Linked DNA regions of Homo sapiens. The protein of the gene in region 2 interacts with the protein of the main gene of each other region in a pairwise test. Each region holds a gene or a part of one and is shown on either strand. Other genes may lie near its edges.

Region 1 (3,500 bases), on a different chromosome or scaffold from region 2:
CAGTGCTTTTTGCATAACAGTACTAAGCCTCAAGTGGATACCTTTGTTTACTCACTTTCATTCGTTATGCCAGACACTATTCTCAGTGCTGGGGAAAATGGTGAGTGTGCAGCCCCAATTCCTGCCTTGAGGAAGCATACAGCTAAGCTGTAACAACAAACCACGAGGATTCAGTGAGTGCCAGGCACGGGCCAGGACACTGCAGACGCAGAGGTGAATGAAACCAACATGGTCTCCAGTGTCAAGGAACAAGTAAATCATAAATAACATAGATGGAGAGAAATAAACCTGAGGAGGAACAGGCATGATCCAGAATAACCACGCAGGAGGGTGGTCCTACTACTTCAGGTCGGAAAAAAATCTTTCTACAGAGCAGACACTGTTCACACTGGGCTCACTAGCTAGTATTAGTATCTGCATTAGCTAGTCCCCTTCTAACACAACCCTCAAATATCACCTGGTCCACAAGGCAACCTGAGAAGTGGGGTGATGGGTGCCATGCGGTTCAAACAGGATAGAAGAAAGAGCACAGGCTCTGAAGCCAGATGTTGCTAATTATTAGCAGGGACCTGAGACACATTTCTTAACCTCTCCGAAGTCCTCAGGAGCCCCTCAGGGAGCTCAAACTATAAACTATCAACCCCGTCTTCCCCGCTGTTGTGTGGGTCTCTAGCCCTGAGCTCAGTTCAGACATGGCTCTGCATACACGAGTCCCCTTCCCTCCCTCCCACGGTGGCCTGCGCTGACGCTGCTGTGCTCTCCACCAGCTCCGGATCTGAGGGGCTGGCAGCTCCTAAGGTGGGAGAAACAGAGTCTTTTAAGCAGCCCCAAAGAGCACCAAGGGGCCAGATTCAACAAAGAATGTGGGTGCCCGTGGCGGCCACCCAGGGTCCCAGTGAGGCTGCAGGAACTGTTTCCAATTTTGTTTTAGAAACAGAGTGATTAACACATGTATCATGAAGGCAGGGCCAAACTGAAGTAATGAATTAGAGGACAAACAGTCAAACAGACTGTCTGGAACACACTCGGTTACAGAACAATCACACCCATCTAACCGAGAGGAGCTGCCAAGACCTCCCTACCCCACCCCCTCCCACCCCCGCAGCGGAGCACGCACAGCCGCTTCCCTCCCTGTGAACTCATATGGCTTCTTCCCTGCGACGCCTCGGCTCCAGCAGTTACTGCAACAAAACTGAAATGAGGGAAAGTCTCGCCTCTGTCTTCATCCACACTGAGGTGGATCCCAGGCTAAAGGGGCAGGAGCTAATGAAAACAATGGTCTCATTCTGTTGGCTTAGAGGAGAGACAGTGCTGTCTCTGGGGACAGGCCACTCAGCCCATGACTCTGCAGAAGGGGAAGTCTGTGGCTCCACAAAGAAAGCAGGGTTGAGCACACTGCAGGGAAAAAACCTAACCTCCAAGGTGGCAAGTCCCTAAGCCCACGGCGGCTTTGTCCACACTCTGTAGGTCTCCCAAGACAGAAACCCATCTGACAAGCCTTTGGTTGTTAAATAGTTCAGACTTGGAGTCAGAAAGACTTAGGTGAACCCACTGGGCACCGTAGAAATCTCCGGAGGCTTCAAAGACCGTCAGGCTCCCTGCAGGCTGGAGCAGTAAACATCCCAGAGCACCCCACAGAGTCTGCGGACACTGGGGATGTAAAGGGGAGGGAAGGCAGAACCAAGTAGAATGCTCCAGAGCCACCAAGGTGTGCACCAAGATTGTCCAGAGAGCTTGTTTAAAACGCAGAGCCCAGCCCTGGAAAGTTTGAATAGGTAGCTATAAGCCCAGGAATCTGCATTTTTAAAAAGCACACCTTCCTCCCTTCCTTACCCCACACTTTGATGAAGACTTTTCTAGAGGTTTTCTAAGATAGCCAGCAGTTAAGAGCTACTGGGCACGGTGGCTCACGCCTGTAATCCCAGCACTTTGGGAGGCTGAGGCGGGTAGATCACATGAGCCCAGGAGTTCAAGACCAGCCTGGGCAACATAGCAAAACCCTGTCTCTACAGAAAAATACAAAAATTAGCCGAGCATGGTGGTACATGCCTATAATTCCAGCTACTCAGGAGGCTTAGGCAGGAGGATCCCTTGAGCCTGGAGTTCAAGGTTGCAGCAAGCTATGATCCTGCCATTGTAGTCTAGCCTGGGAGACAGAGTGATACCCTCAAAAAAAGAAAAAGGAAAAAGGAGTTCAGTCTTTGAAATCGGACTCAAGATGTACTACTTACAGCTGTGACACTAATAGCTGGAATTCAGGAAAATTATCTAACTTCTCAGATTCAGTTCATTTTTCATATGTGAGTGAGGATAGTATTTATCTTATAAATTGAGCGATACGTACAAAGCTCTGAGCACAAAGCCTGGCTCATTTTTAAATGTCAGAACTTTGGGAGGCTGAGGCAGAAGGGTCACTTGGGCCCAAGAGTTCAAGACCTGCCTGGGCAACACAGTGAAACCCCATCTCTACAAAAAATTTTAAAATTAAAAAAAAAAAATATAGCCGGGCATGGTGACACACACCTGCAGTCCCAGCTACTCAGGTTAAGGTGGGAGAATCACTTGAGCCAAGTTCAAGGCTGCAGTGAGCAGCGATGGCACCACTGCACTCCAGCCTGGGCAAAACAGTGAGACCCCATCTTTAAATAAAAATTAAAAAATAATAAAAAATAAAAAATGCTGGACAAATGCAGCCACATTCTGGCCTGCCACAGCCCAATCCAAACCTAGGGGTGGCGTGCAGTCCAACATCCCGACCCCTCCTCCTCTTCACCTGGCTGCTGTCAACCATGCCCTTTTGGAGACATCACCGGGAGGTTTGGAGATCACCATGGCCCTGCCACAGGTAATGATGGAATCGCAAGTGACAGGTGAGAGTCCCCAGAGATGAGCCAAAGAGGAGCAGGAAGGAGGAGGAGACATTTGCGGAAAAGGCACTCTCTGTGGTGTCAAACCACAAGACAGTCTGTTTATAGCTATCTGCTTAGTTAGGATGTTCTGAGCGGAGAGGTGAAAAGAAGGGACACTCCTGAAACAGGACTGCAAAGTCAGCAGGTTTTTCTTAATTGGAATGGTGTTATGTAATATTGGGAAAACTGTAAATGAAGCATTTAGCGACACAAAATGCCACTTTATGAACCGTGACAGCCACTGTGGGGCTGGGGTGGGGAGTTTGGGGCCTCTGTTATGGTTCCCAAGAATCCTTGGGGCAAGGGACAGTGAGGATGAGCCTGAGCCCCTGTGGCCACAGGCAACCTGCTGGGCTGAGCTGCAAAGTCGTGAGAGGCAGGAAGCCCTATAGGGAAGAAGGAGTAGCCAACTGCACTTCACCAGTTATCTCCAAAGGGATGTTGAGAGGGTGTTTTCACTGCGTGGCCCTAAGGATGTGCCGATCAGCAGGCAAGGCCTCCTGCAGGATCTCCTGCCCCCTTACTTGTTTATACAGAAGCCCTTGCTCCTGAGCCAGAGTCAGACAGCTGGGACTACACCTGAATGGCCAT
Region 2 (3,500 bases):
AGTACATAAATTCAAGATGAAAAATTTTTACATGCCGATTTAAAATGTTTGATGGACTTTATAGTTTTTCTAAATTCTGTAAGGGGTTTCACAGGCAAAAAAGTTTGAAGATCACTCGAGTAGTAGACAGAACAGGAGTTCTGGAGTCAAATGGACTTGAGTTCAAATCCCAAATCTAACATTTACCAGCCGAATGTCCTCAGAGAGGTTACTGAACATCCTGAACCTCAGTTTCCCATTCTTAAAGCAGACTAACATGTACTTCAGAGGACCACTTGTGAGGAAGACAGAGAAAGTATATAAAGTGTTAAATGAATAAAGGGGGCTATTATAGAGGAATGGCAAGTGACAAGACCTGATTTTTGGGTCCAACTATGCTTTAATGCACAAAAGATTCAAGGTAGTTACTTTAATTCATAATCCTAGAAGAAGGAAAGGTATTAAGACACCATAATTATCAAGATTAAAAGTACAATTTCTCCAGGTTATTATCCTCACTTGAATCTTGAATAATTAATGGTCCATAATACTCCATGAATATCAGAATTGGAGGTGATGGTCTTATGCCCAGTGAGATTTCATTCACTCACACAGCAAAATTTGGGGGCCTTCTAGGGTTAATAAGCCCTGTGTAGGAAAAGCTAAGGATAGAGTGGAATCCCTAGCCTTCTTCAGCTCCTGGTCAGGTAGGGAAGGCAGACATGGAAGTAGATCATTTCATTCTAGTGTGATAAATGCTGACAGACATATGTACAAGGCACAGTGCAAGCAAACAGAAGAAAGCAACTTTTCCAGAGGGTGACGTGGTGAGGTTATAGAAGTTGAATATTAAATGATAAAATGTTTGCTGTTTAGAAAAAGATGAGGAAGAATATTTTGGGCAGAACACATGAAACGGTACTGAGGTATAAAAATGGTATATTCCAGAAAACTGTCAATGGCTGAATACTATGGCAGGAAGAGGGGAAAGGTGGGGGATGAATGGGGCCGGGTTCTGAAGGGCAGTGAGGGCCAGGGTGTTTGGTCTTCATTCTGTAGGCAATGGGAAGCTGCAGAATGATTTTAAGCAGGTAAGTAAACTCCATCAGATCTAGTTTGAAAAAGCTCTCTGACAGATGTCTGAGGTTAGAAGAGAAGGCAGTGAAAGCTGCTAGTGGAACTGCTTTAGAGTGGCCGGTGCGATTCATAGGTGGTGGGGACAGAGAATGAAATGGTTTGGGGAGCTATTCTCCCTCCCCGAAGGAGGGCGAATCAGTGGAATTTGGAGACTAGGTAGGAGGAGGAAAGGGGGACACAGGCTGAGACCCAGGTTTCCAGGTTTTGGTTGCATAGATTAGTGCCATTAATGGAGATAGGATACAGAATATAGTACTCACTGAGAGAAAGGATCCAGCTTATAGGATAAAAACCTTAATTTATCAAAGCCACACATCATGTCCTGCCTAGGTCTGTGAGAAGGGACAAGTGCCAGCTTTGCTCAAAGAAAACCACAGAACTGTATTCCAAGGTAGGCACTACAGAGAATACATCAGAAATCCCCTGCTATGAGAGCAGCAGGCTCTCATTTTTTCCATATCATCTCAGATGTCCAATTAGGCACTTTTTTCTTTGGACATGGACCAACTGAAAAGATATCTCATTTCCCACCACCAATCAATACACAATCGCTTGGCTGAGAAGCCAGACCCACCGGGCTGGGCACACATTTTGTTCATAGAAAAGCCACACTGAGCAAGCTGCCAAAGATGTAAACAACACCACCGGCTTTGTCTAAATACAGGCCAAGTACACTCCGTTGATAGGATCTTAGAGAGCAAAGCAAGCTATTTGTGGGTGTGCACGGCTTTTGTCGAATGTGCAGTAATCTCATAGCAATCAACATTTCATATTTATAGAACATCATTTTAAAGTCTGGCATTTTCATGTATGTGAAATTGGTGCTACCTGTCCCTTCTGCAGACCAGGTGGTCTGGGCAGAGGAAAAGGCAGAGAAAGGTGATCTGTATTTCTGCACTCCATCCTCTCAATTAATAGACTTCTACACCCAGAAACATGAGCCCAAAAGCATGTGCCAGGTGTTTTTCTGAGAGTTATGAAAAGGAAATAAAAGCTGATGCAAACACAAAAGATATTACATTTCAGGCCACTAAGAGCTGGTCTAAACACTTTAAAAACCAAACCTAACATACAGAGAAACACGTAGGAGAATCTGTCCTCTTCTGTGACCGGCTTCTTTCACTCAAATTATGTGTGTGAGCACTTACATTCATTCTCTTTGCTATGTAGTATGCCTACATGTGAATAAACCAGACTTCATTCATTCAGCTAGGAATGGACATTTGGGTATTCTACAGTTTGGGTCAATGTGCTGCTGTGAACATTCTAGTACATGCCTTTTGGTAAACATATGAGTGCATTTCTGTTAGATTCATACTTAGGAGTTGGAGCTGCTGGCTCATAGGGTATACAAATGTTCAGTATGAATAGACATTGCCAGACTGTTTTCCACAGTGGTTGTATTAAGTTACACTGCCACCAGCAGAATATGAGAGTTCTAGTTCCTCTCTCACCCACACTTGGTTCTTTTCCGTTCTTTTCAGGCCATTCTGATAGCTGTCTAGTGTGACATCCGCTTATAATGTGAATTTGCATTTCCCCGATGGCTAATTAGCCTAAGGAATTTTTCTATAAAGTCTCTTAATCTTTAGATTATTCCACTCTATCTCACCTTTCCTGTGCAATTTATTTGTTGAAGAAACTGTGACCCCCCTATTTTCCATGAGAATTTCAATACAATAAGCCTATGGTTGTTGCAGGGTTACTGTATTTTACAGAAGGGCTAGGCTCATTGTGATTCTATGTGTGAACTCCAAGACAGTCACTGCCCAGGTTCATGAGACTGCTTCTAGACTAACCCTACAGCCCCGTCCAAGTGGGAGCATGGCAATTCAGAATTCTAAGCGGTTTCTTCTATCTTTTCTTACTGTTATAAAGGGAAGATAGAAATTTTCTTTCCAAACTCTTAAGAATGCTATGGAAGAGGCTCATAGCCCATCCTGGGAAGTCAGTACTAGAGGAGGCAATGAGGAGCAGAGGGGAATTCTAATTTCCACTGCTACTAATCAACTGTGCGACCTTGCGGACGTCACTTAACTTTTCAGAGCTTCAATTTTTCCTTTGAATAGTGGGATGGCAAACAAGTTTCATTTTTTTTTAAGTTTTTATTATTATTAATTTTTTATTTAATTTAATTTTTTTGAGAAGAAGTCTTGCTCTGTCGCCTGGGCTGAAGTGCAGTGGCGCAATCTCAGCTCACTGCAACCTCCACCTCCAGGGTTCAAGCAATTCTCCTTCTCAGCCTCCCCAGTAGCTGGGATTACAGGCGCCTACCACCACACCAGGCTACTCTTTGTATTTTTAGTAAGGACGGGGTTTCACCATGGTGGCCAGGCTGGTCTTGAACTCCTCACCTCAGGTGATCCACCCACCTCAGCCTCCCA

What was found.
Region 1: the proteins of STOM (region 2) and CNIH3 interact in binary tests that used the Homo sapiens proteins (3 or more experiments, as listed by UniProt).

The regions. Positions count from the first base shown.
Region 1 is NC_000001.11:224,734,817-224,738,316, reverse strand, and holds part of CNIH3 (protein cornichon homolog 3), read right to left. Parts: intron 1-3,500. UniProt on the Homo sapiens protein: Regulates the trafficking and gating properties of AMPA-selective glutamate receptors (AMPARs).
Region 2 is NC_000009.12:121,342,751-121,346,250, forward strand, and holds part of STOM (stomatin), read right to left. Parts: intron 1-3,500. UniProt on the Homo sapiens protein: Regulates ion channel activity and transmembrane ion transport. Regulates ASIC2 and ASIC3 channel activity.